2 separate regions of the Homo sapiens genome follow, and region 2 is linked to region 1. Evidence: fine-mapped expression QTL. Tissue or cell type: esophagus mucosa. Region 1 holds a variant in brackets; the other region holds the start of a gene. All regions are shown on one strand. Distances are between the middles of the regions.

The links. PIP is the estimated chance that this variant, and not a neighbour inherited with it, causes the effect.
Region 2: A2ML1 starts here. The variant in region 1 is fine-mapped to the expression of A2ML1 in esophagus mucosa (GTEx, PIP 0.97).

The regions. Positions count from the first base shown.
Region 1 is chr12:8,838,859-8,846,962 of GRCh38, forward strand. It overlaps A2ML1 (alpha-2-macroglobulin like 1), which reads left to right. Exons shown (of 36, transcript NM_144670.6): 10 at 255-364; 11 at 2,511-2,678; 12 at 4,276-4,503; 13 at 6,584-6,644; 14 at 7,219-7,364. Among named protein-coding and RNA genes, the nearest start is that of A2ML1-AS1, 12 kb to the left of the region's middle. The variant G/A (reference allele first, on the strand shown) is at 4,512.
Region 2 is chr12:8,817,753-8,825,856 of GRCh38, forward strand. A2ML1 (alpha-2-macroglobulin like 1) reads left to right here and starts at 4,869. Exons shown (of 36, transcript NM_144670.6): 1 at 4,869-4,961; 2 at 5,430-5,613; 3 at 5,968-6,130. The coding sequence starts at 4,900. All of the region lies in intron 1 of A2ML1-AS1 (A2ML1 antisense RNA 1), which reads right to left. RefSeq lists a silencer at 1,621-1,915.

The DNA.
Region 1 (8,104 bases):
GAGCCGAGATCGTGCCACTGCACTCCAGCCTGGGCAACAGAGCGAGACTCCATCTTAAAAAAAAAAAAAAAAAAAAAAGAAGAAATACTACATACTTCTCCAAAAGATTGGGGAGGTGAGGTTGGTTTGGATCTTTGGCCAGAAATACATTCAACTTCATCCCTCTGCCACCATTCTCTCAGAGACTTGACATTAAACGTGAAGATGAGAATATCAGGTGCCTAGATCTTTATACATCTGGTTTCCCTCTGCAGGTGTGGAGGCCAATGCCACTCAGAATATCTACATTTCTCCACAAATGGGATCAATGACCTTTGAAGACACCAGCAATTTTTACCATCCAAATTTCCCCTTCAGTGGGAAGGTATGTTAAAACTTTTCTCTGCATAGACAAAAAAATGCATAACCATCTACTTTGCCTCCTTCCTGCAGCCATAGCCACATAGCTAACTTAGTGCTGTTCCAAGTACTTTATGTGTATTCATTTTAATCTTTAGAATAATGCAATGAGGCAGGCACTGTATTGGCCCCATTTTATGGATACTGAGACAGGCAACAGAGGCTAAGTGATTTTTCCAAGGTGATCACAAATAGATGGGAACTATGACCAAATCCAGGAAGCCTGCCTCCCGGGTATACACTCTCCACTCCCTGTACTCTGCTGCCCCAATCCCATAGAAGAAGTGCCTTGAATATTAATGACACCTTAGGGGTCTTTCTAATGCCAGGGGCTGATCTTCTAATGTCTAAATCTTCATATTTAAGAGCTGCAGGGTTTCTAGAGAAATCATCCAGCCTGGTCTCCTGCATCTAGGCAAGGTTAATATGAAACTTTCCTTGACAGCCATGTATAGCTCTGTAAGCAATTTTGTTTTTCTTTCTGTTTTTGTTTTGTTTTGTTTTGTTTTGAGACAGTCTCGCTCTTGTTGCCCAGCCTGAAGTGCAATGGCGCGATCTCTGTTCACCGCAACCTCCACCTCCCAGGTTCAAGCGATTCTCCTGTCTCAGCCTCCTGAGTAGCTGGGATTACAGACATGTGTCCCCATGCCTGGCTAATTTTGTATTTTTAGTAGAGATGGGGTTTCTCCATGTTGGTCAGGCTGGTCTTGAACTCCCGACCTCAGGTGATCCGTCCACCTGGGCCTCCCAAAGTGCTGGGATTACAGGAGTGAGCCACTGTGCCTGACTAGCAATTTTCTTTAGAGATTTTAAAATTTCCGGCAGGGCGTGGTGGCTCACGTCTGCAGTCCTAGCACTTTGGGAGGCTGAGGTGGGCAGATCACTTGAGGCCAAGAGTTCGAGACCAGCCTGGCCAACATGGCGAAAACTTGTCTCTGCTAAAAATACAAAAATTAGCCAGGCATGGTGGCGCATGCCTATAATCCCAGCTACTCGGGAGTCTGAGGCACGAGAATGGCTTGAACACAGGAGGCAGGGGGTGCAGTGAGCTAAGATCATGCCACTGCACTCCAGCCTGGGCGATAGAGCGAGACTGTCTCAAAAAAAAAAAAAAAAGATAAATACATAATTAAATTTTCTTTGCTAGTGTTTTCTTTCTGATATCTAACTGAATTTCTCTCTTGTTCAGCTTATCTTTCTTTACTTCTTGTACAGCTGGTCCACACAATAATATTGCACACATAGAGATGCATTTATTCCTCAGTTATCATTTCTCTAGACCAAGGGTGGGTGCAAATTATTTTTAGAGCCTAAGGATTACACAGTTTGGGAGGGTAGGGGATTCGCTTTAAGAAAAAGAAAGCAAAATAGGCTGGGCACAATGGCTCATGCCTGTAATCTCAGCACTTTGGGAGGCTGAGGCGGGCGAATCACGAGGTCAGGAGTTCGAAACCAGCCTGACCAACATGGTGAAAACCCGTCCCTGCTAAAAATACAAAAATTAGCCAGGTATGGTGGCACGGGCCTATAGTCCCACTACTTGGGAGGCTGAGGCAGGAGAATCGCTTGAACCCAGGAGGTAGAGGTTGCAGTGAGCTGAGCTCGTCCCACTGCACTCCAGCCTGGGCGACAGACTGAGACTCCATCTCAAAAAAAAAAAGAAAGAAAGGAAGGAAGAAAGGAAGGAAAGAAGGAAGGAAGGAAGGAAAGAAGGAAGGAAAGAAGGAAGGAAGGAAGGAAGGAAGGAAGGAAGGACGGAAGGAAGGAAGGAAGGAAGGAAAGAAAAAAGAAAGCAAAACAACGTGCAGAACCTTTGAAGGAGCCTGTGCATATGAAGAGCCCTGAAGCTTCATTAGCCACCGGGCAAATCTAGCTCTGCTCTGGGCTGTTACTTCTGTTTGTTTTTCGGTTCCTCACAGATCCTAGTTCAAAAGCTTGAATCACATTTATCTTTTTCAGGACTCTTTCCTGAAATGTATTCTTAGAAATTCTGTTATTACTTTTAGTGCCAAAAACCACAATTAGTTTGCACCAACCTAATATTTCACTTTACCTCATACTCAAGCTTACTCCAAACCTAATTCTAATCCGTAATGATCTTTGTCCTTCAGATAAGAGTTAGGGGCCATGATGACTCCTTCCTCAAGAACCATCTAGTGTTTCTGGTGATTTATGGCACAAATGGAACCTTCAACCAGACCCTGGTTACTGATAACAATGGCCTAGCTCCCTTTACCTTGGAGACATCCGGTTGGAATGGGACAGACGTTTCTCTGGAGGTAAGCATGGACGGAGGACCAGCTTCCTAGAAAGGAAGGCTTCCCTGAAGGAAAACTTCAGAATTTTCCTGTTTCCTATTCTCCCCTCTGCTTGGAATTACATCTTTCTCACTCACAAGTCCTGCTCTCCCGTTGACAAAAAGTTTTCCTTAGATGCTTTCTGTTTTTAATATCAATCAAATAAATAGTCCTTACTTGGATGAAAACTACTATTTCTACTAATACATCTTTTAACTTACCCCCATCTCTATCTGATCCTATCTATATATGAAGTTAGAGCAGGGAGGAATAGGTGACTCAGAGTCTTTTTCTTTCTCTTTCCCCTTCCCATCCCCTCATTACTTAATAAAAACAGCAAACAAGAGAACTCTAGATTCTAGATAACTTATAAGTATCAATTATCAACTGCCACAACAATGCTTCTTATCAAACAGCTACAAACTTCAGTATCGTGCAGCAGAAAGCATTCACTGCTTGTGCATCTGGGGCATTCAGTCAGGCAGCTCTGCTGATTTCGATTTCCAGAACTGTCTGCAGATCGGCTGGCCATAAGCTGCTGCTCCGCATGCCTCTCATGCAGGAGCCAGCTAGCCCAGGTATATTCTTATGGCAGTGATGAGGTGCAAGTGCAAAAGCTGATGTTCAGGGCTTTTCCAAACCTCTGTATATTGCATATGTTTTTTTCTTTTTTTTTTTTTTGAGACAGAGTCTCACTCTGTCACCCAGGCTGGAGTGCAGTGGCGTGATCTCGGCTCACTGCAAGCTCCGCCTCCCCGGTTCACGCCATTCTCCTGCCTCAGCCTCCCCGAGTAGCTGGGACTACAGGCGCCTGCCACCACGCCCGGCTAATTTTTTGTATTTTTTAGTAGAGATGGGGTTTCACTGTGTTAGCCAGGATGGTCTCGATCTCCTGACCTCGTGATCCGCCCGCCTTGGCCTCCCAAAGTGCTGGGATTACAGGCGTGAGCCACCGCGCCCGGCCCCTGTTGCATATGTTAACACCCCTTTCCCAACAAATCGAACAGTGGGCACAGACTAGGAGGGTACTGGAAGACCACATGCTCAAGGATGCTGATCTCGGAGGGGGCGGGGTGCGTGTGAGGAATTGGAGCCATTAATGAGATCGTTCAACCTCAGGACTTAAGCAAACACATACTACTTGCCTTGTGGCTAATTTGACTATTTCTTTACTCTAGGCATGACTCAGTTACTCAGAAATAATTATTTTTCAATCTTAGTGTCTTCTGTGCCTAGTTTTCTTATCCCTGAAATATAATCTTTGATTTCTATATAATCTAAGTCACGTTCATCTATCCCAGGAATATCTGTGAAGATACATCACCCACAATTTCCTCTCATTTAGTAACTATAATTCAGCCCTTCTGTCGCTCTCCTACATACCAAAATATTGCTGTACACAGCTACGTTTATGGATTCTTTATCCATCCTTGGCTGGACCGCTAATGAAATACCCACATGCCATTCTCAGGCAGTGAAGATTTGAGAGAAAGAGCTCTATTTGAAAACCGTAACAAGTCCGTGGGGTTTCCATGGTTGGAGCACATGCTAAAATTCTCTCTCTCTCTTTTATTCTCAGGGAAAGTTTCAAATGGAAGACTTAGTATATAATCCGGAACAAGTGCCACGTTACTACCAAAATGCCTACCTGCACCTGCGACCCTTCTACAGCACAACCCGCAGCTTCCTTGGCATCCACCGGCTAAACGGCCCCTTGAAATGTGGCCAGCCCCAGGAAGTGCTGGTGGATTATTACATCGACCCGGCCGATGCAAGCCCTGACCAAGAGATCAGCTTCTCCTACTATGTGAGACC[G/A]GGAAACGGGGACGGGTGAGAGTATGCTGGGAAGGAAAGAGAATGAGAAGAGTCAGCCAGAGGGTGCACCTAGGCTATCTGAATTGCAGATGCACATCTAATTAAAAACAATTTTAAAGCCACACTAAAAAAGTAAAAGAACAGTTGACATTAATTTTAAATGTATTTTTTATTTAACCCATTATATCCAAAATATTAACATTTTAACACGAAAGCCATATAAAAAGTTTTAATAGATATTTTACATTCTTGTTTCAACGGTGTCTTTGAAACTCAGTATGTATTTTACACTTAAAGCGTATCTCAGTTTGGACTGAGCACATTTCAAGTATTCAATATTCCTTTTTTTTTCTTTTTTTTTTTTTTTGAGACACAGTCTCGCTCAGTTGCCCAGGCTGGAGTGCAGTGGTGTGTTCTTGGCTCACTGCAAGCTCCACCTCCCAGGTTCACGCCATTCTCCTGTCTCAGCCTCCCAAGTAGCTGGGACTACAGGCGCCCGCCACCACGCCCAGCTAATTTTTTTTGTATTTTTAGTAGAGACGGGGTTTCACCATGTTAACTAGGATGGTCTCGATCTCCTGACCTCGTGATCCACCTGCCTCAGTCTCCCAGAGTGCTGGGATTACAGGCATGAGCCACCGCGCCCGGCCTCAAGTATTCAATATTCCTATGTGGCTATGAGATACTGCATGGCCCAGTATAGGTGTAAGAGATGGAAAACATTGGGGGAAGAAAGAGATTCTGAGCAGGAACACAGGAAAATTGTGTGGGAAAATAAAATGAGGAATTACCTGAGAAAATAGTGCTGGCCAGGACCAAAAAAAACAAAAACAAAAACAAAACCAGCTGGGTGGTTGGGAGGGAGAGTGGGGAGGGATGGGACTCAGGATACTTTTTTTTTTTTTTTAATTTATATGAGACAGGGTTTCGCCATGTTGGCCAGGCTGGTCTTGAACTCCTGACCTCAGGTGATCTGCCCACCTTGGCCTCCCAAAGTGCTGGGACTGCAGGCATGAGCCACCGAGCCCAGCCAGGATACATTTCATTCTGTGTTCCATTGGTCAATATTATCAAATAGATGATATGGGGTTAAATTCACATCGATAGCAGCCTCATTGGGGAAATAAAATCATAACTTGGTAGCCTGAAAGCAATGTATAAGGATAAGCAGCTTTCCTGTCACCTTGGTGACAGTCAGGAAGTAGAATGGAAACCTCAGGTTTGATGGCTCGGAGCCTCTTTGTTCCGTTATCCTCCTGTCAGTCTATGAGAGACTTTCTCCCCTCTGGATCATTGCAGTAGCTTCCATGGTTTCAGTGTTGTCGTTAAGTGAAAAAAAAAAAATCATCCTAATACAACGAAAAGAGAAAAGATAGGTGGAAAATAACAAGTCCAGTGATAAAGCGGGCTCTGTCTTCAGGACCGAAGTGTGGGGAGGTGTAGGACAAAAGTGAAGTTAGGGCCGAGCCACGTGGAATGGCTAATGCTGGGCAGGCGTCCAAGGAACCGACCTTGGAGCCCTGCAGGAGCGTGGGATGAGAGCCTGCTTGCAAACAAGATCACCGAGTTCTGTTTCAAGTGAGAGTGGACGGGAAGGGGGAGTTAGAAGAGGAGATTTCTCCTCTAGAGGGTTCAATGTCAGAAGGGCTCAGGGTGGTTTAGGATGAAATTATTTCCACTGAATTTTAAATTGAGCTGTAATTAAAAAACACTTATGAGGATAGATTTTCGCTGACTTTCTGTTACAAAGATTATAAGAAAATAAAATTTGGAGATCTTCAAGAAATGGCAGACAGTTATCTATGGTGAGGAACAATTTCTATGCTGTCAGACTCCTCCCATCCACCTGCGTGGTTCTCAGCCAGACCTCCAACTGCAGGAGGAGCCACCAGGACCCGTTGGCAGCATCCTGCATTTGTCAAGCTAGTGGATGCTGGGTGAGGTATTGACCCGGACTCTGAACTGTGAAAGGAACCTCTCCTCATGAAGGGATGCAGAGATGCTCTGGAAGTTGGTCCAAGGTGAAATTACTGTAACTTCTGTGCAGTTGATTCTTTTCTTTTCTTCTTTAGTTAATAGGGAAAGGAAGTTTGGTGATGGAGGGGCAGAAACACCTGAACTCTAAGAAGAAAGGTGAGTGTACATGCTTTTCCCGGAAGCAAACAGGATATTTTTAAATTCCAGAAAACAATTCTTGGCCAGGCGCGGTGGCTCATGCCTGTAATCCCAGCACTTTGGGAGGCCGAGGTGGGCGGATCACGATGTCGGGAGATCGAGACCATCTTGGCTAACATGGTGAAACCCCGTCTCTACTAAAAATACAAAAAAAAATTAGCCGGACGTCGGGGCGGGCCCCTGTAGTCCCAGCTACTCGGGAGGCTGAGGCAGGAGAATGGCGTGAACCCGGGAGGCGGAGCTTGCAGTGAGCCGAGATCATGCCACTGCGCTCCAGCCTGGGCGACAGAGCGAGACTCCGTCTCAAAAAAAAAAAAAAATAAATAAAATAAAATAAAATAAAATAAAAAAATTCTTATCCACAGAAGTAATGGAATTGGAGCACTAACAGTTATCACAGGAGAAGAGAAAAATGAGAAGTAACTTGCACCATGGTGCCTGCACTGGCTCAGTGAAAAGTACATATGGTTAGATGCCGTTGGCAGGTGAATGTGCATTCTGATTTTCCTGTATATTCCCTCTTCTCTTTCAGGACTGAAAGCCTCCTTCTCTCTCTCACTGACCTTCACTTCGAGACTGGCCCCTGATCCTTCCCTGGTGATCTATGCCATTTTTCCCAGTGGAGGTGTTGTAGCTGACAAAATTCAGTTCTCAGTCGAGATGTGCTTTGACAATCAGGTAAAATGATAGCGGAGAAGGGTGAAGATAAAAGTTGGGCATAGAGAAAGATCTTGTGTGTGCTGCGGTTGGAAACAAGACAAGTCAGGGAAAGAAGATAGTGTTGACGTTGGATGTTGTATTATATTTATATCTTTAGTGTTTGGGGTTTGTGTTGAAATCCATCTCTCTCCTACTTTTTATTTTAAGAAGTCATGCTGGCTGAGGTGCAGTGGCTCACTCCTGTAATCCCAGTGCTTTGGGAGGCCAAGGCAGAGGGATTTCTTTAGGTCAAGGGTTCAAGACCAGCCTGGACAACATAGCAAGATCCTGTCTGTACAAAAAAATTTTTAATTAGCTGGGTGTGCAGCACTTTGGGAGGCCGAGGTGGGTGGATCACCTGATGCTAGGAGTTCAAGACCAGCCTGGTGAAACCGTGTCTCTACTAAAAATACAAAAATTAGCCAAGCATGGTGGTGGATGCCTGCAATCCCAGCTACTTGGGAGGCTGAGGCAGGAGAATTGCATGAACCCAGGAGACGGAGGTTGCAGTGAGCAAAGAACACACCATTACACTCCAGCCTGAGTGACAGAGTGAGACTCTGTCTCAAAAAAAAAAAAAAAAATTAGTTGAGTGTGGTGATGCATACCTGTAGTCCCAGCTAGTCGGAAGGCTGAAGCAGGTGTATCGCTTGAGCCCAGGAGTTCAAGGCTGCAGAGCGAGACCCTGTCTATTTTTTTTATTTTTTATAGACAGAGCT
Region 2 (8,104 bases), 21 kb before region 1:
CTCCCCAGGGTCTTAAGGCTTTCGAGAGAGGAGCATGGGCAGCTGGGGCCTTTTCTGCAATGATAGCAAATACGGTCCTTGATGCCCATAGTACTGAGGGGGCTCTTTGTAGTCTCCCACTTGGCCCCCAGTATTTCCTGTGAACACCTGGTAGAGGTCATGGAAAGGAGCCTGTGGGTAAGTAAAGCCCTCCTTGCTTCTGTGACACCCAGAGGCTCCTTATAGTCACTCTAGTCTGCACTAGGCCTCTAGCAATTTATGAAAAATGTAGCTGCTTTCTTCTTGCATGCTTGTATGATGGCCTAAATACCTCCCATACTCTGGCACTGATGAGACACTCCACCCATCTGGTCTCTGCTCATGAGGATTGCATGTCCTTGAATTTCAGGCTACTTAGCTTACCTGCAACCTCAGCTCAGCTGTTTTGTTTTCTTTTGTTTTGTTTTGTGATGGAGTCTTGCTCTGTCACTCAGGCTGGAGTGCAATGGCGTGATCTCAGCTCACTGCAACCTCCACCTCCTGGGTTCAAGCAATTCTCCTGCCTCAGCCTCCCGAGTAGCTGGGATTACAGGCATGCACCACCATGCCTGGCTAATTTTTTTGTATTTTTAGTAAAGACAGGGTTTCACCATATTGGCCAGGCGGGTCTCGAACTCCTGACCTTGTGATCTGCTTGCCTCAGCCTCCCAAAGTGCTGGGATTACAGACGTGAGCCACCGCCCCCGGCCCAGCTCAGCATTTAGGTTCAACTTTTGGTTTAAGAAAAGTGATTTTGCAGTTTGTCTGGCTTTTTCATATTGTCAGAGAGGGGGCAATGCACTTTCCAGCTTATTTTTATTTTTTATTCTTAGAGACAGGGTCTTGCTCTGTTGCCCAGGCTGGAGTGCAGTGGCACAATCATGGCTCACTGCAGACTTGAAGTCCTGGGCTCTAGTGATCTTCCTGCCTCAGCCTCCCAAGTAGCTGGGCATGTGACACCACACCTAGCTAACTTTTAATTTTTTTTTTTGGTAGAGATGGGGTCTTACTATACTGCCCAGGTTGATCTCGAACTCCTGGCCTCAAACAACCCTCCCACCTTGCCTTCCCAAAGTGTTGAGATCACAGGCTCGAGCCACCAAGCCACACTCTTTCTAGCCTTTCAAATTCCAAGTTAAAGTGGAACTTGCCACATGTCGTTTTGTATCACTTTCCCCAACCCCTTTCTTTTCTTTTTTTTTTTTTTTTTGAGACGGAATTTCACTCTTGTTGCCCAGGCTGGAGTGCAATGTTATGCTCTCAGCTCACTGCAGCCTCCACCTCCCCAGTTCAAGTGATTTTCCTGCCTCAGCCTCCCGAGTAGCTGAGATTATAGGCGCCCACCACCATGCCTGGCTAATTTTTGTATTTTTGGGAGAGACAGGGTTTCGCCATGTTGACTAGGCTGGTCTCGAGCTCCTACGGATCGGCCTCCCAAAGTGCTGGGATTACAGGTGTGAGCCGCTGCACCAGCCCCAACCCCTTTCAATTAGCATTGCAAATAATTCCCCTTATCATGAAAACATTATTTTTAATGGCAGCAGAGTATTGCTTTATATTAACATGACAGTTTATTCAACCGAACTCTTTATGGGGCATTGTAATAGACTTAATGTTTTATGTTTGCAGCTCTTTACACCAACACTTTTCCTACTGTAGTGATTTCTTTGAACAATTTCCCCTCCCCAACTCCCTGTGGTTCTAAAGGGGTGGCCAATCACAGTACCCCATCACCCTGGCCTTTAGGTGGGAGAATGACCCAGGCCCTGCCTATCATACCCTCCTGACTACAGTGACTGATTCAGAGGTGAGCCAGCGAGAGAGGGAGGAACACAGTCCTTCTTCGGGAATTTCTATAACATAGGTGAAAAATTTTGTCAGTTGGGGTCGTGGAGCTGAACGAATATGGCTTGAGGGCTCCCAGCTGCCGTCCTCCCTACGACTTGAAGAAAAGCTTGTGTGCAGTAGGAGAAAATGAACCAATCAGAGACAAGTACACAAGAGAGAAGGACTGGGAGGAGTCGGCCCTGGCTGCACCACGTCTCCACTCCTGGGCTGTCAAGTTTTTCAAGGTGCTCTGGTTCCATAAGCTCATTCTTCCTGTTGGATCCATTCCAGTTACCAAAAACACTTTTTTGTTTAGGCTGGTTTGATATAGGATGATCATTGGTCCCAGAGAGCATCCTGGCTAATCTATTTTATTATTTTATTTTATGAGACAAGTTCTCACTGTTGCCCAGGCTGGAGTGCAGTGGTGCTATCATGGCTCATTGCAGCCTTGAACCCCTGGGCTCAAGCAAATCCTACCATCTCAGCCTCCAGAGTAGCTGGGACTACAGGCGTGCACCACCACACTCAGCTAATTTTAAAGAAATGTTTTATACAGACTGAAACTGCCTTTGCAAAATTGTAACAGGAAATTATGACAGTGCAAGAAGTCAGACCTAACCGACTCTATCTTGCTTCTAACCCTTAAGCTGTCCTTGTTTATTCCTGGGCATAGGCCGAAGTAACTTTGGGAAGGAATTCAGTTCATGGTTTGACTCTGAAACAAAATTGATAACAGCCCTTTCCCAAAAAGACCCCCTTCTTGCCCGGGGTCCAGTCTGCCTTTGTAGGACTAACAGATTAGCTACAAGATTAGAAATTACAGTTTAGAGGCCGGGTGCAGTGGCTCGCGCCTGTAATCCCAGCACTTTGGGAGGCCAAGGCGGGCGGATCACGAGGTCAGGAGATCGAGACCATCCTGGCTGACACGGTGAAACCCCGTCTCTACTAAAAATACAAAAAATTAGCCGGGCGTGGTGGCGGGCGCCTGTAGTCCCAGCTACTCGGGAGGCTGAGGCAGGAGAATGGCGTGAACCCGGGAGGCGGAGCTTGCAGTGAGCCGAGATCGCGCCATTGCACTTCAGCCTGGGCGGTAGAGCCAGACTCTGTCTCAAAAAAAAAAAAAAAGAAATTACAGTTTAGAGGTCATGCAGCCTCTGGCTCCAAGAGTCTGAACCTCCCCAAATTGCTCCTGGGGATAACATCACTGCTGTAAAACCTAAGATCAGTAATTGAGTTATTTTGCAGGCCCTGCACTCCATGGGATCAGCTGACACCACACAGACCAGTCATCTGGCCCAACCAGTTCTGCCATCTCACCCAGGAACAGAAGACATTAAGAAAATCTAACTTCGACCCTCTATGATTCCATCTCCAACCTGAGCAATCAGCACTCCCCACTTCCCAAGCCCCTACCTGCCAAATTATCTTTAAAAACTCTGATCCACGAAGGCTCAAGGATTTAAGTAATAATAAAACTCCAGTCTCCCACACAGCCGGCTCTGCGTGAATTACTCTTTTGCCATTGCAGTTCCCCTGTCTTGATAAATCGGCTCTGTCTAGGCAGCAAGCAAGGTGAATCCATTGGGTGGTTACAAAACGGGGTCTCACTATGTTGCCCAGGCTGGTCTCAAACTCTTGGGCTCAAGCAATCCTCCAGCTTCTGACTCCCAAAAGCTGGGATTATAGGCATGAGCCACTGCACTTAGACTAATTTATATTTTAGGTGACTTCTAAGTATTACCATCATAAAGAACACTGTGGGCTGGGCACGGTGGCTCATACCTGTAATCCCAGCACTTTGGGAGGCTGAGGTGGTCCCTGGAGCTCAGGAGTTCGAGACTAGCCTGGGCAACATGGTGAAACCCTGTCTCTATTAAAAATACAAAACAATTAGCCAGGAGTGTTGGTGCCTACCTGTGGTCCCAGCTACTCAGGAGGTGGAGGTGGGAGGATCGCTTGAGCCCAGGAGGTCAAAGCTGCAGTGGGCTGAGATTGTGCCACTGCACTCCAGCCTGGGTGATAAAGTGAGACTCTACTTCAAAAAAATAAAAAATAAAGAAAAGAAAAAAAAGAAAGAACAGTGTGAAAAAACTCAGTGTTACACTTGTGCATACATGCATGCTGTCCTTTTTTTCCTCATTAAGAAACATTTCCAGAGTAGGAGTTGCTGAGTGAAAGAATATGCAAATCTCAAAGGCTTTGGTGTGTATTACAAAATTGCCATGAGAAAGTTATCCACATTCTATTTTCTCTAGGACTGTGTGTGTCCCTATTTCCATACAGTCACAACAATACTGAGTAGTATTAATTTTTTTTTTTTTTGAGACAGAGTCTCGTTGTGTCACCCACGCTGGAGTAAAGTGGCATGATCTCGGCTCACTGCAACCTCCACCTCCCGGGTTCAAGCGATTCTCCTGCCTCAGCCTCCCAAGTAGCTGGGACTATAGGCACCCACCACTATGCCCAGCTGATTTTTTTTTCTTTGTATTTTTAGTAGAGACAGGGTTTCACTATGTTGGCCAGGCTGGTCTTGAACTCCTGACCTGGTGATCTGCCCACCTCAACCCCCCAAAGTGCTGGGATTACAGGCGTGAGCCACTGTGACCGGCCAAGTTTACTGCTTTTCTATTGAAACTGTTCTCATACCCGTGTTCCCAACTACACCTTAATTGAATAATAAAAGAAAATAAGGACATTAAATGAGAACAGGAATTGGAATGAGACCAGAAAAAAAGGGAGGAGTTCAAAATATGTTCTGAGAGCTTTACCATTATGAATACTCAGCTCTGGTTTTCCCCCAAAACTGGCTGAACCAGTATGGATGTTCCAGGCAGAAACAACTTTAAAGAAGTGAATAGTGGCCCTACCCTGGTCCACCACCTAACCTGGTGGTTACAGAAGGAGGAACACAGTCCTCCTGTGTTCCAGGTGCCAGGAGGTGACTGACTATAGCATCAGTCATCACTGCACACCCTACCTGGAATTAGTATATAAAGCTACGCGGAGCGATCTCTGCCCCTGACCCTGGAAAAATCTGTCTCACCCACAAAGATGTGGGCTCAGCTCCTTCTAGGAATGTTGGCCCTATCACCAGCCATTGCAGAAGAACTTCCGTGAGTGCTTGGTGTCAGAATTGGTTTATTAGGGCAGCGGCTTCTTCGCCTAACTTTCTCAAACATTTATATGGAGATGGGGAGATCAACTTTGGTTTATCTTAATTTCCTCCTCCTTTTTTCTCTTCTTTGGTTCCACTGATCCTTTACCCAGAGAGGGAGGCTGACGCATGAAGAGGAAGCTTTAAAAAAGATAAATATTAAAATGTGCCCTGTTTTCTGAAATAGGCCTAATTTCCTCCTTGGTGCTCTAGGCATGTGTGCTCGGTGAGGGCCTCCTGATGGCGGAAGTTGAAGACTGTGCACTGAGTCGTTGCCCCTCTGCTTCTTGTAGAAAATGAGGTGCATAAGGAAGGCAGGGGCTTGGTCTGTCTAATTCACTGCTACTTGCTGAGCGCTTAGGAGAGTGCTGGATTTTTCGAGTGAATGAATCATTATTGCCCTGAAATCCTTCTGCTCCTTTAATAGAAACTACCTGGTGACATTACCAGCCCGGCTAAATTTCCCCTCCGTTCAGAAGGTTTGTTTGGACCTGAGCCCTGGGTACAGTGATGTTAAATTCACGGTTACTCTGGAGACCAAGGACAAGACCCAGAAGTTGCTAGAATACTCTGGACTGAAGAAGAGGCACTTACATTGTATCTCCTTTCTTGTAAGCACAGACTCAGCCCTCACTCGAATCCCTTACTTGCCTATTCTCCTCCCTAGGCTCACTATAATCTACTTTAAGTATAATTTCTGTTATCTTTTGCCACGGCCTCTAAACCTATTTTTTCTCAACTTAACCTCAATCCCCGGCTATAACTCACCCACGGTTTCCTCGACCTAGGATTTCTCCCTTTAGTTCCTGACCTTAATTCTTCCTCGTGGTAATTTGTTTTATGTCTCTATCCTTGCTACCCCCATCTAACTCAGCTCTTTCCTTTAACTCACTGTTGGGTTGAGACCAGTTGATTCTGTTCCCCCAATCCCTTACCCCTCCCCAGAAGTCCCCTTTCTTGGTCAGGTACCACCTCCTGCTGGTGGCACAGAAGAAGTGGCCACAATCCGGGTGTCGGGAGTTGGAAATAACATCAGCTTTGAGGAGAAGAAAAAGGTTCTAATTCAGAGGCAGGGGAACGGCACCTTTGTACAGACTGACAAACCTCTCTACACCCCAGGGCAGCAAGGTAAGAGTCACATATTTGGGGTTCGACTAAAACCTGGGGAAACCGCTGTGCACAGGGGTAAAGAGGGGATTTGTGGTTTGACAGTAGGCTTTGGAAAAAAAGGAGTGCAGAGGAGAGGAAAATCTGGGGGGATTAAGTAGTGCAAGTGTTGAATACATGCTGCGCTACACAAGCAAGAGAAGTAGGTGGGGGTTGCTACTGAGTTTGTGTATCTAAAACAAAAGTACACATTTCTTCTGGAATAGAATTTGGCAAGTATAACTGGGTTGCTGGGCCTTACAACAAACTGCTTGTAAATGGCTAAGAAAGCACTGAGGGCATTTGGCTTGAGCTACTGGGGTTTTTTTTTTTTTTTTTTTTTTTTTTTGTATTTGTTCATTCGTCCTTACAGGGGCACTTCATTCTGAGATTTCAAAGTCAGGCACCCTGAAAAGAAACTATGTTTGGGTTTTTTTTATTTTTTTATTTAAAATTTTTGTGGGTACATAGCTGGTGTATATATATTTATGGGGTAGATGAGATATTTTTATACACACACACAATGTGTAATCATTACATCAGGGTACATGTGTATCCATCACCTCAAGCATTTATCATTTCCTTGTATTACAAACAATCCAATTATACTCTCTTAGTAATTTTTAAATGTGCAATAAATTATTGTTGACTGTAGTCACTCTTTGTGCTAAAAACTACAAGATCCCTAGATCTTATTCATTCTAGCTAAATATATTTTTGTACCCATTAACCATTCCCACCCCACCCCTCATCCTGCCCACCATTACCCTTCCCAGCATCTGGTAACCATCATTCTGTTCTCTCTCTCTCTTTCAAAAAAATTTTTTTCCTTTTACCTTATTTTTTTCCACACACTTAAAAATTATTATTCTATTCTCTATCTCCACGACTTCAATTGTTTTAATTTTTAGCTCCCACAAATAAATGAGAACATGGAAAGTTTGTCTTTCTGTGTCTGGTTTATTTTACTTAACATAATGACCTCCTGTTCCATTCAGGCTGTTGCAAAGGATGGGGTCTCATTCTTTTTTATGGCTGAATAGTACTCCATTATGTATGTGTACCACATTTTTTAATCCATTTTTTATCATCTGTTCATAGACACTTAGGTTGCTTCCATATCTTGGCTATTGTGAATACTGATGCCATAAACATGGCAGCACAGATAGTCTTTGATATACTGATTTCCTTTCTTTTGTATATATACTTAGCAGTGGGCTTGCAGGATTATATGGAAGCTCTATTTTTAGTTTTTTTCAGAAACCTCCAAACTGTTCTCCATAGTGGTTGTACTAATTTACATTCCCACCAACAGTGTATGAGGGTTCTCTTTTCTCCACATCCTCACCAGCATTTATTATTGTTTGTCTTTTGGAAAAAAGCCATTTTAACTGGGGTGAGATAATATCTCATTGTAGTTTTGATTTACATTTCTCTGACAGTCAATGATTTGAGCACCTTTTTTATATACCTGTTTGCCATTTGTATGTCTTCTTTTGAGAAATGTCTATTCAGATCTTTTTGCCCGTTCTTTAATCTGATTACTAGATGTTTTCCTATACAGCTGTCTGAGCTCCTTATATATTCTGGTTATTAATCCCTTGTCAGATGGGTAGTTTGCAAATATTTTCTTTCATTCTGTGGGTTGTCTCTTTGTTGATTGTTTCCTTTGCTGTGCAGAAGCTTTTTAACTTGATGTGATCCTGTTTGTCCATTTTTGCTTTGGTTTCTTGTGCTCCTTGGGTATTACTCAAGAAATCTTTGCCCAGACCAATGTTCTGGAGAGTTTCCCCAAAGTTTTCTTATATATAATAGTTTCATAGATTGAGGTATTAGATTTAAATCTTTCATCCATTTTGACTTGATTTTTCTATATGGAGAGAGATGAGGGTCTAGTTTCATTCTTCTGCATATGGATATCCAATTTTCCCAGAACCATTTATTGAAGAGCCTGTG